Homo sapiens: one gene and its partners. The protein of the gene in region 1 purifies or fractionates together with the protein of each later gene. This does not show direct contact. Each region holds a gene or a part of one and is shown in the gene's direction. Other genes may lie near its edges. The genes, in order: FYTTD1, CCNYL1, ERICH5, TRIOBP, CCNY, GNG5 and PTPRG.

What was found.
Region 2: the proteins of FYTTD1 (region 1) and CCNYL1 purify together in Homo sapiens (affinity purification with mass spectrometry; 3 studies listed by BioGRID and IntAct, with this or other methods). This does not show direct contact.
Region 3: the proteins of FYTTD1 (region 1) and ERICH5 purify together in Homo sapiens (affinity purification with mass spectrometry; 2 studies listed by BioGRID and IntAct, with this or other methods). This does not show direct contact.
Region 4: the proteins of FYTTD1 (region 1) and TRIOBP purify together in Homo sapiens (affinity purification with mass spectrometry; 2 studies listed by BioGRID and IntAct, with this or other methods). This does not show direct contact.
Region 5: the proteins of FYTTD1 (region 1) and CCNY purify together in Homo sapiens (affinity purification with mass spectrometry; 2 studies listed by BioGRID and IntAct, with this or other methods). This does not show direct contact.
Region 6: the proteins of FYTTD1 (region 1) and GNG5 purify together in Homo sapiens (affinity purification with mass spectrometry; 2 studies listed by BioGRID and IntAct, with this or other methods). This does not show direct contact.
Region 7: the proteins of FYTTD1 (region 1) and PTPRG purify together in Homo sapiens (affinity purification with mass spectrometry; 3 studies listed by BioGRID and IntAct, with this or other methods). This does not show direct contact.

The regions. Positions count from the first base shown.
Region 1 is NC_000003.12:197,773,883-197,777,382, forward strand, and holds part of FYTTD1 (UAP56-interacting factor), read left to right. Parts: intron 1-266; coding exon 267-328; intron 329-3,044; coding exon 3,045-3,119; intron 3,120-3,500. UniProt on the Homo sapiens protein: Required for mRNA export from the nucleus to the cytoplasm. Acts as an adapter that uses the DDX39B/UAP56-NFX1 pathway to ensure efficient mRNA export and delivering to the nuclear pore.
Region 2 is NC_000002.12:207,714,640-207,718,139, forward strand, and holds part of CCNYL1 (cyclin-Y-like protein 1), read left to right. Parts: intron 1-3,500. UniProt on the Homo sapiens protein: Key regulator of Wnt signaling implicated in various biological processes including male fertility, embryonic neurogenesis and cortex development. Activates the cyclin-dependent kinase CDK16, and promotes sperm maturation.
Region 3 is NC_000008.11:98,067,568-98,071,067, forward strand, and holds part of ERICH5 (glutamate-rich protein 5), read left to right. Parts: intron 1-3,500.
Region 4 is NC_000022.11:37,728,048-37,731,547, forward strand, and holds part of TRIOBP (TRIO and F-actin-binding protein), read left to right. Parts: intron 1-3,500.
Region 5 is NC_000010.11:35,532,009-35,535,508, forward strand, and holds part of CCNY (cyclin-Y), read left to right. Parts: intron 1-3,500. UniProt on the Homo sapiens protein: Positive regulatory subunit of the cyclin-dependent kinases CDK14/PFTK1 and CDK16.
Region 6 is NC_000001.11:84,500,704-84,503,581, reverse strand, and holds part of GNG5 (guanine nucleotide-binding protein G(I)/G(S)/G(O) subunit gamma-5), read left to right. Parts: intron 1-1,611; coding exon 1,612-1,737; 3' UTR 1,738-1,756; intron 1,757-2,878. UniProt on the Homo sapiens protein: Guanine nucleotide-binding proteins (G proteins) are involved as a modulator or transducer in various transmembrane signaling systems.
Region 7 is NC_000003.12:62,271,571-62,275,070, forward strand, and holds part of PTPRG (receptor-type tyrosine-protein phosphatase gamma isoform 1 precursor), read left to right. Parts: intron 1-1,375; coding exon 1,376-1,511; intron 1,512-2,127; coding exon 2,128-2,274; intron 2,275-3,500.

The DNA.
Region 1 (3,500 bases):
GGGTTAGGAAGTTCTAGAATAGCGCGGGCCCCTCCGCAGCACTCACGCACACGCCCCACTGGGTTAGGAATTTCTAGAATAGCGCGGGCCCCTCCGCTGCACTCACGCACACGCCCCACTGGGTTAGGAAGTTGTAGAATAGCGCAGGCACCTCCGCTGCACTCATGTACACGCACCACTGGGTTAGGAAGTTCCAGAGCAGGATCGCTCTTTGGATTCAAATCCTCTGCTTTCTGTGGTACCTACTGCTTTTTTTTTCCCTTCAGGTGCAGGCCCAGTTGAATACAGAACAACTGCTAGACGATGTAGTAGCAAAGAGAACTCGTCAGTAAGTTTCCATTTGTTTTTTAAGATGTTATTTCAAAACTCCCAGAATACTAACTACCCAAATTATCATGTACCTCAGTCCAGAAGAAATTAATTGAAACCCAAAATAAAATTCAGTCTGAAAGCTGGGCATAGTGGTGCTACACACCTGTAATCCCAGCTAGTTGGGAGACTGAAGCAAGAGAATTGATGGAGCCCAAGAGTTCAAGGCTGTGAAGTGCCATAATGTCACCTGTGTATCGCCACTGCACACCAGCCTGAGCAGCATAGCTCGATGCCACTGCACACCAGCCTGAGCAGCATAACTTGATTGCCACTGCACACCAGCCTGAGCAGCATAGCTCGATGACCAGTGCACACCATCCTGAGCAGCATAGCTCGATGACCAGTGCACACCAGCCTGAGCAGCATAGCTCGATGACCAGTGCACACCATCCTGAGCAGCATAGCTCGATCGCCAGTGCATACCATCCTGAGCAGCATAGCTCGATCGCCAGTGCACACCAGCCTGAGCAGCATAGCTCGATCGCCAGTGCACACCAGCCTGAGCAGCATAGCTCGATGGCCAGTGCACACCATCCTGAGCAGCATAGCTCGATCGCCAGTGCATACCATCCTGAGCAGCATAGCTCGATGGCCAGTGCACACCAGCCTGAGCAGCATAGCTCGGGCTATGGAGACTGTCTCCAAAAAAATTTTTAAACATTGAGGCTAAAATAAATAAATCTTGTTTTGTCCTTTGTTAATTTTCCCCAAAAACCTTTTGAGTTTTCATGTGTCGATATTGTAACAGTTTTAGTGCCACGTAGATTACTTCATTTTTATTATTTTTATTTTTTATTGGCTATACCATTTTAATGAAACAGCTTTTTCTTTTTCTTTTTTTTGCTATAACTGCTTTCATACAAATGAACCTATTTAGGGAATGAATAGAATAAAATTCAGTGGAGCTTTTAGAACATTTGTACAACTTTAAAAACAATAGTTTTCCTTTTCACAGTCTTTTTTTCTTAGCCCTATAAAAAATCTTTTGAAAACCTATTTTATCCTGTTATAATCACACCTCCTAAGTGTGAGTTGTAACATACTAATTCCATCAGTGTGATTAGGTTTTGAGATTAAACTATTTAAAATTATGACTACTTTTTGGAAAATAAAATATATACACTTGGCCCTCTGTGTCTCAAGGGAATTGTTGCCAGGCCCATTGAAGAGATTAAAATCCTCAGATACTCAAGTCCCTTTCAGTCGGCCCTCCATATCCGCGGATTGTCTCTGTGTCTCAGGGGAATTGGTTCCAGGCCCACTGAAGAGATTAAAATCCTCAGATACTCAAGTCCCTTACAATCGGCCCTCCATATCCGTGGATTGTTTTCATTCTGCGGTTGCAACTGATTGAATACATGGACGTAGAACCTGTGGATACAGAGAGCTGGCTGTAAAACATGGTCAGGGCCCAGATATGGTGCCAACTGTGGTGCATGATTTTTAGCAATTGGAGTGTTAGGAAACTGTGAAACTGATACAGGTGGTATTCTTTAGCACAGGGGTCATGACATTAGAAACCATGGGGAAAGAAATAATAATTGTAGCCTTTTTGCTTCTGCAGTGAACAATATTTACATAATTGTGATCATATAAATGTTATTTGTTTTGAACTTTGAGAATCAACCTGTTAGACAAAGCACAAAATAGTTAATTTGAGAACAATATAATGTAAATGTCCGATTTTGACTAATGTGAATATAAAGGAAGAGCTGACAGAAAGTGAGAGGTACAAACAAAGGAGCAGAGGTGGAGGGAAGGAATAGAGGCACTATTATCCTTTCACATAAAGCTGGGGGTGGGTTCAAGAGATTCTGCTGAAAGAAACAGAGATTTAAGTATTTTCAGTTACAAAGGCCTGGAAATAGTGATACAGCCATCAAAATGTTTCATGGTGGGTAAGGAAACTGGAGGATAGTTTGACGAACTAAATCTTTATTCATCATAGCAATTTTTTTTTTTTTTTTTTGAGATGGAGTCTCGCTCTGTTGCCCAGGCTGGAGCGCAGTGGCACAATCTCAGTTCACTGCAACCTCCCCCTCCCGGGTTCAAGCAGTTCTCTGCCTCAGCCTCCTGAGTAGCTGGGATTACAAATACCCACCACCACACCCCACGCCCAGCTTAAATTTGTTTTTTTTTTTTTTTTTTTTGGTAGAGATGGGGTTTCACTATCTTAGCCAGGCTGGTCTTGAACTCCTGACCTCATGATCCACCTGCCTCTGCCTCCCAAAGTGCTGGGATTACAGGTGTGAGCCAGTGCCCGGCTGCAGCAAGGTTTTTTTTTTACTATGTAAGCATCTTGTTTAGTGAATTGGAAGTAACCAGAAAGCAGTAAAAACAGGTTAAAAGTGCTGCCTCTGGAGAGTAGGAATAGAAAGCAGGAGAATAGTGGGGTGAGGGACTGTTGCTTTTTATTAGAAGTTCTTTTGTACTATTTGATTTTTTTAAATTTGTATACATTTATTACACTGAAAAATATTTAATAAATTAATTCAGATGCCCAGTTCCGCACCCAAGATGTTGATTTATTATATCATGGTGGGGTTCAGGTACTTATTTCTTACAAGCTAAGAAAAAGTAATGGCTACTTTTAATGTTCATTTTTATTTTGAATATACATAGGGTTTATCAACTTACATTTAATGAATTTTTTTTATTTTTTTTGAAACTAGATGGCGGACTTCCACCACAAATGGAGGGATTTTGACTGTATCTATTGACAATCCTGGAGCAGTGCAATGCCCAGTGTAAGTTGTTTCTTTCTTTTTGCAAAAATTATAACCTCTCATTACATGAGATCATAAGAAAGTATTGGACTTCTGCTCAGAGAATGATGTCCAAGTTGGGATGAACCAGGAAGACAGTAATACCTGTGATACAATATGGAAACAGTATATGGTGTAAAGTAAAGTAAGAGCTTTCTTGATTCCTGATTCTGCAGCCCTAAATGACCACGTTGGAACAGTGTTTTTTATGTTTTAAAAATTATGTGCATGTATACTCTGTGTACCCTTTTTTTGGAGGCAAGGTCTGGCTCTGTTACCCAGGCTGGAGTGCAGTGCCATGATCATGGCTTATTGCAGTCTTGACCTCCCAAGCTCAAGCGATCCTCCTGCCTCAGCCTCCCG
Region 2 (3,500 bases), on another chromosome or scaffold:
AGGTAAGGTACCAGGCATTAAGCATGGGATGATGATAAAGAGTGCTAAATCAGAAAAGTTGGAAAAAGAGAATTTGTAAGCACAGAATTTACCATTGTATGTTAGTATGACAGTTACATTTTTATTTCAATTTGTCTCAAAATTTATTTTTGTGGCATTCAATAAAGTGATAATAGAAATCTCCATTTCGGCATTTGCCTATTATTCATAAGTTTCCATAGAAACATGGCCAGAACACCAAATATAAAGTATAGACACATTGAAAGTTTGCTTTTAATATCTTTATTTCAGACAATTTTATATCAGTCTCCCTGGAAACAGAAATTCTTACTGAGATGTAAAACATTTGGCTGGGCATGGTGGCTCACGCCTGTAATCCCAGCACTTCGGGAGGCTGAGGTGGGCGGATCACGAGGTCAGGAGTTCGAGAGCAGCCTGGCCAACATGGTGAAACCCCGTCTCTACTAAAAATACAAAAATTAGCTGGGTGTGGTGGCGGGCATCTGTAATCCCAGCTACTCAGGAGGCTAAGGCAGGAGAATCACTTGAACCCAGGAGGCAGAGGTTGCAGTGAGCTGAGATCGTGCCACTGCACTCTAGCCTGGACAGTGGAGCAAGACTCTGTCTCAAAACAAACAAACAAACAAAAAATTTAGCTTTTCTACAATGAAGAATTATTTTTGTTACTTAGACAAAAATCATACATAAATGACGCTCGGCTTTGTTCTTCAAGCTATTTCTTTTTTTTTTTTTTTTTTTTTTGACAGAGCTTCACTCTTGCCTAGGCTGGAGTGCAATGGCACAAACTTGGTTCAGTGCAACCTCTTCCTCCCGTGTTCAAGTGATTCTCCTGCCTCAGCCTCCCAAGTAGTTGGGATTACAGGCATATGCCACCATGCCCAGCTAATTTTTGTATTTTTAGTAGAGACAGGGTTTCAGTATGTTGGCCAGGCTGGTCTCGAACTCCTGACCTCAAGCGATCCAGCTGCCTTGGCCTCCCAAAGTGCTGGGATCATAGGTGTGAGCCACCGCGCCTGGCCTTTTTTTTTTTTTTGAGATGGAGTTTCGCTCTTGTTGCTCAGGCTGGAGTGGAATGGCGCGATCTCGGCTCACTGTAACCTCTGCGCCCAGAGTTCAAGCAGTTCTCCTGCTTCAGCCTCCTGAGTAGCTGGGATTACAGGTGTGTGCCACCACGCCCAGCTAATTTTTTGTGTTTTTAGTAGAGATGGTTTCACCATGTTGGCCAGGCTGGTCTGGAACTCCTGACCTCAGGTGATCCACCTGTCTCAACCTCCCAAAGTGCTGGGATTACAGGTGTGAGCCACCACGCCTGGTCTCGTCAAGCTAAGAGATGCTCCTAAGAACCTAGTAAACATTTCAGATAGACTCAAAGTATTTTCTACTACCTTGCCTTTATTTAACGGTATGTCTAACATAACTGACGGTAGTATCAGTAACACAAAATAAGATACTAAGATCTTATTGTCCGATTTTATTAGTACTCTTGACTTTTCATGGAGCATTTTATGTTCTGACGTTAGGAGCTTTGCTAATTTGCTGGCTAAAGGCGCTCTCTGAAGTGACTCTTTCTATTCTTTTCCACTGATGGGTGAAGGTAGGGAAAGAATTGGCAATGTAATGTGGAAAAACCTCTGAGCAACAGATCTTTCCTCTTTCCAGTAGCTATTTTAAGCCCTCTCTTTTTTTTTTTTTTTTGCTTTTTTGAATAATATGTTTGATGTAAAAGACATAGAGAATACAGAAAAGTCATTGATTATGGTATGCATATGAATATAACATTTTATTTTAGAAAAATGAGATCATTCTATATGAGCTGCTTCATAACTTACAGCAGTGAAATAATGTCATAAATTCCTGAATCACTGCTTGACATCCAGAGAGTGCTCCAAGATATCTTTCCATGCCAGGACACCCTGCTCTATCGCATGCCTTCTAGTAACTGCTTAATGTACCATCAGATGGTTGGAGTATCATTTATTTACCTATCCTTTATGATTGGGCATCTTTTCTAGTAACATCATACACAGTCTCATTACATTTGATTTCAAGGGTACCGATAAAAACATATTTTGATGACTGATGCCTTGTACCTCCCTGTAGAATTCAGTTAAATCTATGGGTTGAGTCATTTTGTAGTTAAGATATTTTAGTATTAAATGTTCTTATGGGCCAGGTGTGGTGGCTCACGCCTGTAATCCCAGCACTTTGGGAGGCCGAGGCGGGTGGATCACGAGGTCAGGAGATCGAGACCATCCTGGCTAACACGGTGAAACCCCGTCTCTACGAAAAATACAAAAAATTAGCCGGGCGTGGTGGCGGGCGCCTGTAGTCCCAGCTACTCGGGAGGCTGAGGCAGGAGAATGGTGTGAACCCAGGAGGCAGAGATTGCAGTGAGCCGAGATCACGCCACTGCACTCCAGCCTGGGTGACGGAGCGAGACTCCATCTCAAAAAAAAAAAAAAAAAAAGTTCTTATGTCAAATTGGAGTTAGCATTGACTTTTCCCTGGACTTTAGAATTCATCATTTAATATTTTTTGTTTCTTGGTAGCCTATCTTGCATCTTTAATTCTGAATAGCTACCACTTTAAAAGATTTGATGCTTACCACTTTAAAAGATTTGATTAGATGACAAATCAAGAGAGAATGTTAGAAGAAATATTAAAAGATGTGGGAAAACTGGGAGAAACTTGACTAGTTTTGGGTGTGCTGAAACAGATGTTTATTGAGTACCTTTAGGTGGCCAGGCTGTGTTCCAGATTTAGGGCAGACAGTGGTATACAAGACAGAACCTCATCCTAACTCTGATCCTTACATTCTGGAGGGAGCTAGGGATAGATAATACATGAATAATCAAGAATGTTAGGTGGTGAGGTGCTAGGGAGAAAAGTAAAATAGGGTCATGGATTGGGGAGGAGGACAGTTACATGGGGGTTGTGGGGATGAAAGATGGCTGCTCTCCTTACGTGACCTGTGAGCAGTCCTAAAGTGAGAAGGGAGCCTTGTGAGGATGGTTGGTGAGAGCCAGGGGTCCACACAGACAGTTACTTTGGAGTTCCTTGAATGGGAGCAAACTTGTTTTTGGCCAAGGACAGAAAGACACAGGGTGGCTGCGGAAGAGTGAAAAGGATGCCAGGACTATGGTGGGTTAAGGCCATGTGTGTATAGTGGGCCTTGGCAAAGAATATAGACTTTAGTTGTGATAGGAAACCATTGGAGGATTATAGCCTGGGAAATATTTTTAATTCTTTTTTTTTTTTTTTGAGATGGAATCTTCACTGTGTCGCCCAGGTTGAAGTACAGTGGCTCAATCTTGGCTCACTGCAACCTCCGCCTCCTGGGTTCAAGCGATTCTCCTGCCTCAGCCTCCCGAGTAGCTGGGGCTACAAGCACGTGCCACCACACCCGGCTCATTTTTTGTATTTTTAATAGAGATGGGGTTTCTCCGTGTTAGCCAGGATGGTCTCGATCTCCCAACCTC
Region 3 (3,500 bases), on another chromosome or scaffold:
TCTAAAAACAATGAAATCAATACAATACAATCAACAAATTATACTATGTATCTTTTTTTTTTTTTGAGACGGCATTTCGCTCTTGTTGCCCAGGCTGGAGTGCAATGGCATGATCTCGGCTCACTGCAACCTCGGCCTCCTGGGTTCAAGTGATTCTACTGCCTCAGCTTCCCGAGTAGCTGGGATTACAGGCATGTGCCACCACACTCGGCTAATTTTGTATTTTTAGTAGAGACAGGGTTTCTCCATGTTGGTCGAACTCCCGCCCTCAGGTGATCCACCCGCCTCAGCCTCCCAAAGTACTGGGATTATAGGCATGAGCCACCACGCGTGGCCTATACTATATATATTATTTAGGGATAGAATAATCCCTTATTATGATTCTAAATATTAGTCTAATCCCTAAATAAGATATATAGTATAATGTGTTATACAAATATTATATATTTATTTTATTTTTTATTTAAAAAATTGAGACAGGGTCTTGCTATGTTGCCCAGGCTGGTCTTGAACTTCCAAGCTCAAGTGATCCTCCCACCTCGGCCTCCCAAAGTGCTGGGATTACAGGTATGAGCCACTGTGCCCAGCCTATGTTATAAATTTAAATCAGACAGCAGCTACTAGTAGGTAGACATTAGGTTGCACAGGAATAATCTATTCTACTGATTATGTGGGGACATTTGCCCTGACCCATTAGACACTGAATCTCACGGAGCTGCTTCCTATCACCTCCCAAGATGACTGACCAGATAGGTGTGTGTGTTTGGGAGAACAGAGGTGAAGACTCTGATTGTTAACAATTATTAGTGCTCCTCACAGCGTAGAACAGTGCCTAATATGTGGTAGTCACACATCGATTTTTATGACGTGCCCTGAAATGTGTGAGGAAAGAGACTTTTCATTCCAAAGGATAATTAGACAGATTGAGTTTGGAATTTCTTGTGTTTTTGGAAGCAAGTTTTAAATATTAGGACAATTTCTGTTGTTTTGAGTGTCCTGAGGATCCGATGCAATCTGAACACAAAGGTTTTATTGACTCCACAGACCTTAATGTGCCTGAAGGTGTCTATAGACGTTCACATCCAAACCCTCCTCCCAGTGTTCCTAGCCCTCTGCTAACATGGATAATCACTGCTCGAATCTTTCCTAATATAAATGGGATCTGTTTTGGCAGACTTCTTTCCAAGGTGTTACAGCCCAAGCACCAAACATGGACAAAGTAAATAGGTGGTAATTATTGACAAGTTCATTGCTAGGTTAATGTGTACATTTCCACTGACAGCTATAATCATTTGTTTGTTCTAACCTGAACTTTCACTAGCTGCTTGCTGTCCATGCGGCCTAGGCAATCAGATGAAGCTTGAATTTCACAGTTATGTGAATTGTTCTTTGTACTGCAGTCATACCTTCAGTTTTCACCCAATATTTCACACTCTGACATCTAGTTAGGTCATCTGGTCCTAACTAGACAAAAGTTTTCCTTTTGAATTGAAGAACAAACATCATAAACATTAAATTTAATTTGTATAGGCTTTTCTTGCATATAGAAATTATATAAATGGGATTTTTTTTCTTTCAAATGTGTGCCTTGTGTCATTTCTGGAGCCTGGCACTTAAATAGCATTTGGTATGTCTTTGTGATAGGCCTGGCGATTGCATATGGCTAATTGAAATGGAATAAAAAAACTACATACATGGTTCAAAAATGTGAAAATATTTGGAAAAGGCAGGTCTGAAAAGTATACCTTCCACCCCATCCTCATCATCTATTTAGTTCGAATCACACCTGTGAATACACACTTATTATTTTAGGGTTTTTTTTTTTATATATTCTTTTGAAGTTTATTTATGCATTGCAAATATTATTTCCTTCTCTCATCTTTATTTATAAAATGTAGTGTACTATACCCACCGTTCCTCACTTTGTTTTTTTCACCTAACACTATGGAGATTTTTCCACATTTATATGCAGAGAACTTCTTTCTCCTTTTTTATACCTGCATAATAATATGTTCCTTGATTTATTTAACCAGCCCCCCTATTGAGGGACATTTAATTTGTTTACAGTCTTTCCCTGTTGCAGACAAGACTGCCATGAATTCCTTTGTGCCTACATCATTTTGAATGTGTGCAAGTATATCTGTAGGACAGTTTCCCAGGAGTGGCATTACTAGGTCAAAGGGTGTACGCACTGAAAGTTTTGATAGATAACTGCCTAAATGTGTTCTGTAAGACTTGAAGCAGTTTACACTGTCATCAACAATAAAGTAAATCTTTTTCTAAAACAGAAAACTTTCAGACATTTGTGCAGCCACATCGAAACATACACATGGGACAGAAGTCAGGAGATAAGGAGGGAGCATGCACTTGGTTTCAGGTGCTTTAGTTTGTGATCTTATTTAATCCTCACAATAGCCTTAAAACACAAACATTAATTGCACCAAATACAGCTAGAAAACGAAGCTTAATACAGATAAGTCACTTGCCCTGGTCTCAGAGCTAGTAGGTCTAGTAAGCCTACTTACTAGATGGATGGATGGACCTGGGGCACATGGCTAATGTGTGTGACTCCAAAGCCCCTGTTCTTTTCACAACTTCCAGTTCCATCTGGGATCTGGTCCTAGTTCTGCAAGAAACTTGTAGTGTGGCCTTACACATAGAACATATGCAATCAGCTGAGTGTGGACGCTCGAGCCTGTAATCCCAGCTACTTGGGAGGCCGTAGTGGGAGAATCAGGAGGTCAAGCACCACTGTACTCCAGCCTGGGCAACACAGTGAGACTTCTCTCTAAAGAAAAGAAAAAAGAGGCCGGGCGCAGTGGCTTACCCCTGTAATCCCAGCACTTTGGGAGGCTAAGGTGGGCAGATCACCTGAGGTTGGGAGTTCGAGACCAGCCTGACCAACATGGAGAAACCCCATCTCTACTAAAAATACAAAAAATTAGCCAGGTGTGGTGGCTAATTTTTTACTGGTATGCTGATGCCTGTAATCCCAGCTACTCTGGAGGCTGAGGCAGGAGAATCGCTTGAACCAGTGAGCCAAGATCGCGCCATTGCACTCCAGCCTGGGCAACAAGAGTGAAACTGCATCTCAAAAAAAAAAAAAAAAAAAAAAGAAAAGAAAAGAAAAAGAAAAGAGAATGAAAGAAAAGAAAAAAAAGCAAGCAATAACTGTTGAGTAGATGGATGGGTGAATGGGTGATTGACAGAGACGGGGATTCAGGGAGGTAAGAGTATTACTCAGAAAAGCAGAGGAGGAATCAGAACCTAATGAATACCAGAAACTGAAAGGTAATATTGGCCAAGATGGGCTTAGAAAGAGTGTCGGGTTGTGTATAGAGCCTCCTAGCTATGCAGGAAAAGGTTAGCACTGTAAAACAACGCTTGATTGTCTGCCATTAAATCATGCTTCTGGGCTGAGTGCAGTGGCTCATGCCTGTAATCCCAGCACTGTGGGAGGCCGAGGCAGGTGGATCACCTGAGGTCAGGAGTTCAAGACC
Region 4 (3,500 bases), on another chromosome or scaffold:
CATCACCCTAAAGGGTATGGAATATTTTGTATCTAAAATTCCTCTTTGCTGCTCCTTGGGAAAGTTTTCTCCTGGATTTGAATCTGCATGAGAAACCTTATCAGTCTTGGCTGGGTGCAGTGGCTCCCTCCTGTAATCCCAGCACTGGAGCTTGCAGTGAGCCAAGATCATGCCACTACACTCCAGCCTGGGTGACAGAGTGAGACTCCGTCTCAAAAAAAAAAAAAAAAAAAAAAATTAGCCGGGCATAGTGGCACACGCCTGTAGTCCCAGCTACTCAGGAGGCTGAGGCAGCAGTATTGCCTGAATTTGGGAGGTGGAGTTTGCAGTGAGCTGAGATTGCGTCATTGCACTCCAGCCTGGGCAACAAGAGTGAAACTCCATCTCAAAAAAAGAAAAAAAAGAAACTTTATCTCTTGTTCTTCAAATTTCCTTTTCCAGTAAGCTTGATCATTTAATATCCAGATGACAACCGTGTGGTCTCCAGCATTAGTATAATTCTTTCTTTGGCCTTAAAAACAAAAACCCAGAGCAGTTTTAGGTTTACAGCAAAATTGAGCAGAAAGTGCAGTGTTCCATGCACAGCCTCTCCCACTACCAATATCCTGTACTAGATAGGTATGCTTGTTTCCAGCTCCTGGCCTCAAGGGATCCTCCTTTCTTGGCCTCTCAAAGTGCTGGTGAGCCACTGTACTGGGCAGTAGGGTGATACATTTGTTACAATCCATGAACCTACACTATGAAATCACCCAAAGTTTAGGGTTCACTCTTGGTGATGTACAGCCTATAGGCTTGAATGAATGTATGACAAGTATCCACCATTGTAACATCATGGAGTAGTTTCACCCTGAAAGTCTTCAGTGTCTTTAACTTTTTTTTTTGTTTGGAGATGGAGTCTCGCTCTGTCACCCAGGCTGGAGTGCAGTAGTGCAATCTTGGCTCACTGCAACCTCTGCCTTCTGGGTTCAAGCAGTTCTCCTGCCTCAGCCTCCCGAGGAGCTGGGACTACAGGAGCATGCCGCCACATCCGGCTAATTTTTTTGTATTTTTAGTAGCGACAGGGTTTCACCCTGTTGCCCAGGCTAGTCTTGAACTCCTGAGCTCAGGCAATCTACCCACCTCGGCCTCCCAAAGTGCTGGGATTATAGGCGTGAGCCACCGTGCCTGGTCTGACCTTTTTTTTTTTTGAAACAGGGTCTTGCTTTGTCACCCAGCAGTAGTGCAGTGGCGTGATCATGGCTCACTGCGGCCTCAAACTGCCAGGCTCAAGCGATTCTCTCACCTCAGCCTCCTCAGTAGCTGGGACTACAGGCGTGTACCACTATACCCAGCTAATTTTTCTACTTTTTGTAGAGATGGAGTCTCACTTTGTTGCCCAGGTTGGTCTCAAACTCCTGGCCTCAAGCAATGCTCCCACCTTGGCCTCCCAAAGTGTCTTTGACCTTTTTATGATTACTATTTCTTGTCTAATGTCAATTTTCCTAACTTTGTCTTAACTAATAACTCAGCAGGGACATTAAGGTCTTTAAGCCAAAGTTAATTAATTTTCTTTCCTTTTTTCCAGGATAATTTCAGAGAGATAAGGTGTTTATATTAATAATAGAAATGAGAAATATGTTTACACTTTTATTAACCATTTGTTTTTACACGATCACTCCTATACATTTAATTCTACTCTCTTTGAAATAGCTTATTTACCTTTTAGGGAAGTTTTCATAATTTTACTGAATAATTAAAATTTTTCCTCTTATCTGGCACCTTTTCCAAGTAGAAAACCATTCATCCTCTGAATATGGAAAATTTTAAAACTGTGCAGTGTGTGTGTAAGGGACAGACTGGAGCTTATGAGCGGGTGGCTGTAGGAGTGTGCTTTTATTTTCTCCTATTTCCTCATCGATATGTATTTATTGAGCATCTACTCTGTCCAAGCATTGTCCCGAGTCTGGAAAATTTTTCTTAAAGGGTTGTCACATCAAAGCATTGGGAGTTTTGGCTTGATCTTAATTTTTTTTTCCTTAGATGCCTTTGGCATCTCTTAGAGTCACGTAGCATCCTGTGGTCATTTGAATTCAAAACCTAGCCTTCACTGGATTTGCTAGACTTGATGGCTTTGCTCCTTTAATTCTCTCTGGAGGTCGAAGAACCCATCTAAGCTTCCGAAGGAAACGTTTCCTTTGTCATGCTTGGTGCGGCCACATCAACCCTCGGGAACAGGTGGCCCCGAGGAGACGCTGTTGCTTCAGCATCGGACAAGCCAGGTCTCTGTTGGGGTTTCAGAATCTTCTTGAGTCCCTCACTCTTTTCTCTCAGTTCTACATGGGGGAAAAAAGGAAGGCGAGTTCTCAGGAGGAATGCTCATCAAGCAAGCTGGAGTTCGTATGGAAAATGCATCCATCCGGAAGAGAACACACAAGTGCCTTGCTTCCCTGCACCGGGTGTTTCCACTATTGTCCTCCTGGTCCTCCCCATTAGGGAGGAACAGCCCACTGGGTCACGTCTGGGCTCTTGCTTCATCGAAGCTCCTATACCCCAGTTCGGGGGAAAATTCACTCTAAGGCCTTCAGCTCTCACAGAGTAAGGAAACGCACTCACCTCCAATTAGATTACAAATTGGCTGGGTGCAGTGGCTCATGCTTGTAATGCCAAGACTTTGGGAGGTCAAGGCAGGTGGATTACCTGAGGTCAGGAGTTCAAAATGAGACCAGCCTGGCCAACATGGTGAAACCCCGTCTCTACTAAAAATATAAAAATTAGCTGGGCATGGTGGTGGACACCTGTAATCCCAGCTGCTCAGCAGGCTGAGGCAGGAAAATCACTTAAAACCAGAAGGCGGAGGTTGCAGTGAGCTGAGATTGCACCACTGCACTCCAGCCTGGGTGACAGAGCGAGACTCCATCTCAAAAAAAAAAAAAAAAAAAAAGTTACAAACAGCCTGCCCAGGGAGCCCTCAAGCTCAGAAACACTTCCTCCAGGGAACTTTGGTTCCTCTCCGAACCAGCTGCCAATAACTGCTAACAACTAACATTATTGTGCTTTATGGCTCTGATTCTAATGACATTGGCAAAAGACATGAAACAACAAAAAACTCCAACCCCATACTTTTTTTTTGAGACAGGATCTTGCTCTTTCACCCAGGCTGGAATGCAGTGGCATGATCATGGCTCACTGCAGCCTCAACCTCCCAGGCTGAAGCGATCCTCCCACCTCAGCTTCCCAAGTAGCTGGGACTACAGCCACGTACCACCATGCTCGGCTCATTAAAAAAATTTTTTTTTCCTAGAACAAGGTCTCATTCTGTTGCCAGGGCTGTCTCAAACTCCTCGACTCAAGTGATCCTCTGACCTCAGCCTCCCCAAGTGCTGGAATTACAGGTGTAAAGACACTGTACCTGGCCTCCCAACCCCATATATATATATATATATTTTTTGAGACAGGGTCTCACTATGTCACCCAGGCTGGAGTGCAGTGGCGCGATCTCAGCTCACTGCAACCTCCACCTC
Region 5 (3,500 bases), on another chromosome or scaffold:
TTTGTCCTATGAAATAGACTGGTGTTGACCAGGATACCAGTTTGTATGGGGGTCTTGTTGGTTGCAGCTGGAGAGGAGCAGCCTTGGAGGCCTTCGTGGTAGGTGCAGCCCTGCAGCCCATCCTCTGGTCTCTGCTGTCTGCTGAGGCTCATCAGCGCAGCTGCATGCTTGTGGGTAGAGGGCACAGAGACGTGTGCCTTGAGCAAGACTCTTGTAGGATTGTTCTTCCCTCCTCGTGTTCCCTAGAGTTAGAAACAGTCATTCAGGACAAGTCTGGCCTGGAGTTGACAGAGATGCATTCATTAAGCCCTTATTTTCACTGGGCATGTGTTTGGCATCTTGGCATGCTGCTCAGCAGGCAATGGAGGAGGAAGAGCAGTTAGCCCTGGCCGTGCTTCCCACACGGAGTAGGACTGCAGCCTGCTGTGGACAGAGAGCCTACAGGCCCTTCAAACACCCAAACCTACTTCACCCAAAGCAAATATTTCACAGCTTAATCAACTTCCTTTTAAAAGAGTAACAATAACTTAGATCACTAAGTGTATTTTTTAGCCTCCTAGAATATGCTGAAAGCTCTCCTATGGATACTGCCACATGAGGAAATTTGAAAGGGAGTGAGGTAATTGATTTGCACCTTGATGAGTTATGTAGAGGCCTTTGTGGTGTACCTGCAGCAGCTGGAGGAAGCCAGGCCTGCAGTGAAGTGGGCAGAAAGGCCTTGGCATCCAGCTGCCCCTCCACGAGGCCCTTCCCTTCCCTCAGGAGTCACCCAAGCTGACTGATCCTGAGAACCATGCATGGCACCCACTTTAGTCCTATGCGGTACTTCGACAACATGAAAAGCTCATTGCCTGTCTGAACTGGGATCTTCTGTTGGAAGGATGAGAAAGCCAGAGGCCAAGGCAGAAGGAGATATATTGGAAGGTCCAGGCAGGTCTCGCATATCCCTTGTCCTGTAGGTCTGGAAGGACATCAGGCTGTAGAATGAGGCCCACTGCAGGTTTCTCTTCCTTTGGGCTGCTTCTCTCACCTTTGCGCACTGCTGTGGCTCTGGGGCCTTAATGTGCAGGTCGGCTTTCTTGCTTCGGATGGGATGTGGCAGGACAGTATTAATAGCTTTCCCCACCCTTCATCACCTCTCCGTTTAAGGCCGCACACCCTCTAACCCAGTCTCCTCTTTCAGTTTTGGAGAGGGGAGATTTTGACTGGCCCCAGTTCCTTTGGGGTCAGATGTTCATCTGTAGAAAAATCAGTCATGACCCAGAGTTGAAGGAGCTTGGTCCTGCTCTTTTTTTTCTCACTTTGCACGCTCCTCTGTTCAGAACCTGTGGTGGTTCCCATCTTCCTCAAAGGAAAACACAAAGCCCTTATGTTACTGACGGGGCCTAGCAAGATTAAGCCTCCCATCTCTGCCCAGCTGCCTCCACTCTCCTCAGTGTCATGCTGCAGCTGCTCTGTTCCCTGGATGTACCGGACACACACCTGCCTCGGGACTTCTGCACCTCAGGACTTCCTCCACCCCTTGGCACCCAGCTCCCTCTGTCCCAGGTGTGTTTGAGATGCGTCCTGCCCTCCTCCTCCCCATCTTTGCTCAAAGGGCACATCAGGGGGCTGTTGCCTGGCCACCATATCTGAAGTTGCAACCTCCCTCCTGCACCGCACTCCCTGCTCATCACTTCCTGCTTTTTCTCCACTTGCTTATCACCTGTCAGCATGCTTTAGGTTGAAGTCATTAATTTTATTGTTTTGTCAGTAAGCCCCATGCGTAAGAAATGTCTGGTCTTTTTGTCCATGTGGTTTACTACAATACGACCAACATCTGGAACACAGCCCAGCTCATAATGAATGCTCAGTAAGTATTTGTTGAACATGTAGTGAGCACAGTAATAACTGCCTACTGGCTGAAGTACATGGTGGTGATGTGCCTGAAACATAAGGATCATTTAATACCTATTTATTATCTTCCCCTGCCCCAGTAGTTTTAGAACATTGACACATTTCATTTCATTGCTTAACTTTTTTTTTTTTTTTGAGATGGAGTCTCACTTTGTTGCTCAGGCTGGAGTACAGTGGCACAATCTCAGCTCACTGCACCCTGCACCTCCCAGTTTCAAACGATTCTCCTGCCTCAGCCTTCTGAGTAGCTGGGATTACAGGCTTGCGCCACCATGCCCTGCTAATTTTTCTTGAATTTTTAGTAGAGAAGGGGGTTTCACCATGTTGGCCAGGCTGGTCACTCCTGACCTCAAGTGATCTGCCCACCTCAGCCTCCCAAAGTTCTGGGATTACAGGCGTGCGCCACCACACCCAGCCCTGCTTAAGCTTTCTGAAGGGACAGAAAAAAACTCGTCAACTTCGGGGACATCACTCAACTGAACCTTGATTGAGCATTCCGTGTGAGGTTAGTTCTGTCTGTAGAGCCACAGCAATGGGAGAGGGAGAAAGAGAGGAAGTTGGTGATTGATGGAGGGATTCCGGCATAAGGGAAGGGGAACCAAGAAGAGATCGAGGTGGCAAAGTGACAGCTGACCAGACAGGAGGGGGTGTGGTCCCTTTCTTTATTTCCTATTTTTTAATAGCTTTATTGGGACATATTTTATATACCATACAATTCAGCCATTTAAAGTGAGCATTTTAGTGGGTTTTAGTACATTGTACAACCATCACTACAACCTAATTTCAGAATATTCCCTTCACCCCATAGAGAAACCCCTTACCCTTTGGCATTCACTCCTCGTTCTTAGCCTCCACCCAGGCCCAGGAAACCACTAATCAAATTTCTATGTCATTTGCCTATTCTGAACATTTCATATCAATAGTATCTCATATGATAGTTCATGATTGGCTTCTTTTACTTAGCATATGTTTTTGGGATTCATCCATGTTGTAGCATGTATAGTATGTCCTTTTTTATTGCAAATAATATTCCATTGAGTGGGGATACATACACACACACACACACACACATATATATATATAGATCTATATATATGTGTGTGTGTGTGTGTGTGTGTGTGTGTGTGTATGTATATATAGATCTATATATATGCTGCAGCCCTAATCCCTGTTGGAGTGAACAAAGGAGGATGAACGTGAGAATAAAGACAAAGACAAAAGAATGTATTTGGAAGAAGGGGTCAGGGGGCTCCTTGCTTTTAGTGAACAAGGGCCCAGAGCTTCTATAGCCCTTCGTATTTATTGAGTAAAGGAGATACAGAGAAGGGGGTGGTTGTCAGTCAGCTGCTTGACTTAGAGCAGGCCTGCACAGCTGCATTCTCTGAACAGTAGTCTCTAGATGTTCCAGTAGATAACCTCAAGGAGCACGGCACCAGGGAGTGATTACACTCAACAAACCTTCTGGTGGCAGGTGCAGTTGTGAGTTTGCCCACATCCTGCATTCATGATAAACAGTTTGCTGTTTGATCATATAGCCTCCAGTGGAATGCTGAGTTGGTCACAACCCACAGGCTTTTGGCTCTCTCTGTCTCTCTCCCTATATG
Region 6 (2,878 bases), on another chromosome or scaffold:
TGAAAAATGACACCATTGTTCCCCTACTTTAGCTACACTTCTTTTGGAAGGCGGGGGATGAGGGGGTGTAGTCATTTGTAAAAATACTTCTTTTACATAGGAGCTAATAAACCTATGGAACTCATTACTCTGGACTGCTGTATAAGCAAAACACACAAATAGATTCGATAAGCGTTTAGATTCATCTTAGGATGAAGAATTATTAGGTTGGAGGTACAGCTGTAATCTGCAGGGGTTCTTGGTATAGAGAGCATTTGTGATGCTATTAATTCCCTGAGGCCACATATCCAGCTGGATGGACTGGACACCTGCTCCCAGCCTCCTTGCGGATAAAGACTGAGAATAAAATAAATGAGTATTTCTCCCACTTTTTAAATCTCAGTTCAAGACTTCAGATATTAGATGCATTTGGGGCATGTTTTAGTCATTCATGTTCCACGTCTGAACGGGTCCGTTAATGTTATTAAACTAGACAGTGACAGATTTCTGCCCAGTGTCACGTGACTGAAAGGCTGCTAGCAAACTTCAATTTAACAGTTTTTCTGAGCAGCCTGCCTTTAAGAAACTATTGCCTTAAATATGATTTAAGTGTTAATATACATATACAGAGCCACCCAAACAGGACTTAAGGAACTTCAATGGCTTTATGGTTATTTTGTTTATATCCTACATCACCTTAGCAGAATATATAGAAATAGTAGATGTCTAAGTGAATGAATGCATGCCTCTTTTAATTTGTTTTAGTTTAAATGCAAGACAGTATAAGGGTCTGATAAATTTGAGGATCAGTATACTGAATGCATTCTTAGTGTTGGCTTTTCTAAATTATGTGCTAGTTATCCCACATTATGTTCATTCACAGTAGCATTTTTCCAGTAATACTGCTTTCAAGACAAAGTAATAGTTTGCTAGAATGTTATTGCTTTTTGTTTAACCCTTAATGTTTTTAATAAGATGTTAAGTACCCTCAGGTTTGCACTTGAACAGCCTATTATTAATAAGCAAGATGTGCTACGCTTTGCAAAAATCAACATAATTCTACTGTTTGTACTCAGTCATCTGATGCTTCTAGTAACCAAGCAAAAGAAAACATACTTAATTAAATCAGTCTTATTTGCAAGCACTAGTTTTAAGTATTAAGAGCTCACTAGGCTGGGCGTGGTGGCTCACACCTGTAATCTCAGCACTTTGGGAGGCCGAGGTGGGCGGATCACGAGGTCAAGAGAGAGAGACCATCCTGGCCAACACGGTGAAACCCCGTCTCTACTAAAAATAGAAAAACTAGCTGGGCGTGGTGACGTGCGCCTGTAGTCCCAGCTACTCAGGAGGCTGAGGCAGGAGAATCGCTTGAACCGAGGCGGAGGTTGCAGTGAGCCGAGATCGCACCACTGTACTCCAGCCTGGCAACAGAGTGAGACTCCGTCTCAAAAAAAAAAAAAAAAAAAAAAAGAGCTCACTATTTGACTTAAGTCTTCAATTATTATATAGTATCTTCTTTTGAAGCAAGAGAAGTACTGTTTTATTGTAAGTACAATATTTCCAAAGATTGAGAAAACCTTCATTAAAATGTTCTCACCATCTGGCACTTCCCCCCCTCTTTGTTATGTATAGGTTTCCCAGGCAGCTGCAGACTTGAAACAGTTCTGTCTGCAGAATGCTCAACATGACCCTCTGCTGACTGGAGTATCTTCAAGTACAAATCCCTTCAGACCCCAGAAAGTCTGTTCCTTTTTGTAGTAAAATGAATCTTTCAAAGGTAAGTTTCCTTAAATTTAAAACAAAAACCCACACTGTAGGAATAACTAGTCTTCTCTTTCTTTGCAGCACTTAAAAGATCATCCCATGCCCTTTCCTTTGGCCCTCCATTTCCAGTATTTTTCTGTTTTGCAAGGAAAGTGAGGATTCATGAAACTTGCTGACTTAGTAGCCATGAAGGCTAATCGTTTCTATTTTACCATAAAGAAGGTTAAGTAGAGGATTTAATAACCATAAAGAGGGTATAGGAGAGTTACTACAAAATCCCACTGCCGTAACAAGCCATGTGTTACTTTTTAGAGCATTGGCCTAATGGAGTCCCCAAGTACTAGTTTTGTTTTTGTGTACCTGGCAAATATTTAGACAGTTTTTAAAAAATCTGCAATGTTTATGGGGATAACTTAAAGTACTACCAACTGATTTGGATTAACTCTTGATGTTATTGCTCTAACTGAACCCAGCTGTAGAGCAGTATAGCAAAGATTGGGAATTGGAAATGCAAGAGAAAGTCAGATGTAATTGAGTAAGCCAGTGTGGTAGAGGCGTTTGGACTGAGGTAGAACAGACTTTATATTTTGTTCTCATTTGTTAGATTAAAGATAAAACATGAAGGAAATGCAGTATATAAGTTCTTGGTGGCAAACAGACAGTGGACTGAATTTCAGAGAATTAAAAACTAAAGACCCTGTTGGCTTTATTAAAGCATGCTTCAGTACATTAATTTGTGCCTTCCAGATCAAATGTCATGTGTACAAAATGTATGTTAATCTAAGAGATGTGACCAAAAACGTTTTGGATCATTTAAAATGTAACTGAAGGGTGCTGCCTTTTATAAATTCTTAGTACTTTAGTTAGGGAATGTACTCATTAGTATTGACCTATGAGAAGCAAACTTAAACTAATAGTACTTTTTTAAAAAAGATTTTGTATATGGCACACACCCCTTACTAACTTTCTGACTTCTCCAAAGTCCAGGAAGCTGCTTCCTAAAATACCTTGTTACATAGTTGTGCCCTCCTTAATTAAGCTTCCTAGACCTGGGAGTGTCCAGGAAGTCTGTATAAGTACATGTTTCCAGTAAATACAATGATTGGTTAAGATGTTTAAGTTTTTTGAAATACCA
Region 7 (3,500 bases), about 140 Mb from region 1:
CAACATGTGAAATAGATGGGGCAGGGGACTTAGGCCTCAGTGACCTTGGACCACAATGATTGCTACTGCTTTCACTTAGAAGCTGAATCTTCCACTGGAAACTGGGATGGATAAGACCTATGATAGTCTTAAAGAGGCTCTATTCCTGTAACATTAAGAAATCATCTGCTGCTTCTGTGATTTTTAAAAAACTAGATCAATCCCTAGTTTTTATAAAATCTTCTTATTAATAATATCAGCCAGGCATGGAGGCCAACTCCTGTAATCCCAGCACTTTGGGAGGCTGAGGTGGGTGGATCACTTGAGCCCAGGAGTTTGAGACCAGCCTGGGCAACAAAGTGACACCCCATTTCTACAAAAATTAAAAATAAAAAAATTAGCCAGCATGGTGGCACATGCCTGTGGTCCCAGCTACATGGGAGGCTGAGACAGAAGGATCCCTTGAACCCAGTAGGTCAAGGCTGCAGTGGGCTGTGTTCACATAACTGCACTCCAGCCTGGGTGATGATAGAGCAAGATCATGACTCAAAAAAAAAAAGAAAAAATTACAAAATCCCCATTGTTTATAGGAAAATTGTAGCCTGATCCTAATAAATAAAAATATGACGTTAAACACAAGAACTTTCCACACTAGAATAGAGATTGTGTTTTTGTAAATGGCTTTTCTGAAAGGTTCTTCTAAATAACAATATTTATAGTATATATGAAAATATTTCATTTTTAAATTTTTAGTTTAAATGTTCCATATAAAATACCTTTTCAAAAGCACTGGGAAATCCTTGTATAAAGCTTGTTTTTTGTCAGCCACAGTAAATGACTTTAGTTGGTTGTTTAAAAATGCTTTTATTCTGTTTCATTTGAAAATGCATTCTTGCCTCTTTTTTGTTTGTTTTAAACTTTGGTACTCAAATACATGTCGCTTGTTCTGTGATTTATGTTGCAATGCTAAGTGAATAACGTACGTCATCTAAGGTTATCTAAGTGGGGTTTAGGCTGGGAGTGGTGGCTCACACATGTAATTCCAGCAGTTTGGGAGGCCAAAGTGGGCAGATCACCTGAGGTCAGGAGTTCGATACCAGTCTGGCCAACACGGTGAAACCTCTACTAAAGATAAAAAATTAGTCGGGTGTAGTGGTACACATCTGTAATCCCAGCTACTCGGTAGGCTGAGGCTCGAGAATTGCTTGAACTGGGAGGCGGAGGTTGCAGTGAACCGAGATTGCGCCACTGCACTCCAGCCTGGGCAACAGAGTGAAACTCCATCTCATCTCAGAAAAATAATAAAATAAATGGGGTTTAGATTGGAATTTTTCGAATCCAAAGTTAACAGTATGATAAAACAAAAGTGCCAGTTGAGTGTCTTCATTTCTTACAGTGCTGGTGTGGGCAGAACAGGCACCTATATTGTAATAGACAGCATGCTGCAACAGATAAAAGACAAAAGCACAGTTAACGTCCTGGGATTCCTGAAGCATATCAGGACACAGCGTAACTACCTCGTCCAGACTGAGGTAAGGAGTAGCTGCCAGCGTCCTCACGACATTCTGGCAAATGCTGTAACTGAAATTTGTTAAATGATAATGAAGAGACAGATTCATTCTTTTAGGGCTTGCAGTAATTTACAGGTTTGTATTAGAAGATATTCTGACAATGATCCTATTCTACGGATCACAGTTTTCCATTTCTGTATGGATCTTAACATTTGGATTCCTAAATAACTACACAAGTACTTACGAAAGAGATACAGTTGTTTCAAGAGCTGTGTTAGATGGTAGGGGGAGTTAAACATGTTGTCTGGCCTGAGAAATACATAGGAGAGGATGGTTCTAAAACCCTTCATTGAACACGATTTTTTGTTTGCTTATTGAGTTGAAGCAATAAGCACAGTATAGAATACCGTGATCCAGGCACAGTATAGAATACAGAGCTAAACTTAACACAGTCTCTACCGTAAAATAAGTTAAGACTGATAAAGTGAGTATTGGAGCAAATCACCTAGCTGTAAGTGCTTGAAGGAAATCACTGGGAGGTCCCTGTTAGCAGCAGAATTAAACTAAGGTACACTTCATGAATGAGTGGCTAACCCTTAACACTCCCTCAGTGACTACCATGTATTGTACCTCTTAGGAGCAGTACATTTTCATCCATGATGCCTTGTTGGAAGCCATTCTTGGAAAGGAGACTGAAGTATCTTCAAATCAGCTGCACAGCTATGTTAACAGCATCCTTATACCAGGAGTAGGAGGAAAGACACGACTGGAAAAGCAATTCAAGGTAGTGCTTTGAAAAAGTTTCTTTGGCATAAAGCAAGAAAATGTTTTAAATGCCTTGAGTTTGGGGGTTATGTCTTCTTTGCATTAATGTATACACCGAAATGGATTACTATTTGTACTCCTTGTACTCCTTAAATGTGATGAAAAAGAAAATACGGTTTTGACCTATGTATGAATTGTTGGTATTCAAGTAGATATACAGTGTTGTATTTTCTTCTGAGCAATTTATGACTTTATCTGAATATAAACATCAGCCCCTGGCCATAATGACATAGTACTTTAAAGTAACTCGTTTAGTCCAAAAAATGTCCTATTTTTTCTGAACTAATCTATCTTACCTTAATTATTAAGAATGATGACTTGTAGACATATTGTCCTAAAAATATGCCTATTTCAAAAACTATTTCAGAAGATAATTTAGGAATTTAAAAAGAATTACTAAACAATACTAGAGAAAAGTTAACTTTTCCTAAATGGTTGTTCTTTTTCTTTGATAGGGACATGAAGAAGCTTAAAAGCGGTTAAGGTTTATATGGAATTGACTGAAGTGAAGGTGAAAAAGAGAGATTATAAGGACTATTAAAATAATTAGGGCTCAGTCATCTGATAATAAATCAAAATTGCTTCTAACTTTCAAACATCGCCTGTCTCTCCAGTTACCAAGTGCTTTCCTATTTATCTTTGTCTTTTAAATTCTATTTTGCACATTGTTCTGTATGTAAATAGTTTCTCCCTTTGTATCAAGATTCAAAGAATGAGATGAATCTACAGTTTTAGTTTTCATGGTAAAACTTTCCATAGACTGAAACTTTCATTTGAATCTCAGCTGAAGAAATGAGACTGCCAAGCAAATTATACCAAGTGATATGAAATGAAAAATAGTTTAATTTCACTGAGTTCAGTCATAAAATTAAAAATTTTTAGCTCCCCATTAACATTCTACTATAAAACCATGAGATAATTAATAATGAGGACACAGTGTATCATTTTAAATGTTTAACATGAGTTCTTACAAAATATTAAGTACCAACATTTCTTAAATTCTGCCTTTTTCGTTTCTTCAATTTTTTTTTATACATACTTTAAAACTTCATTTAAGAAATGCGACCAGGTAGTTGGTTCTTTTACAGGCACTAACCATTTTAGAGCTCAAGATGAAGAAAAAAACAAGAATCAAACTTGAAAATGAAAATTATATCCAGGGACCATGAGTTTTACTAAAGCATC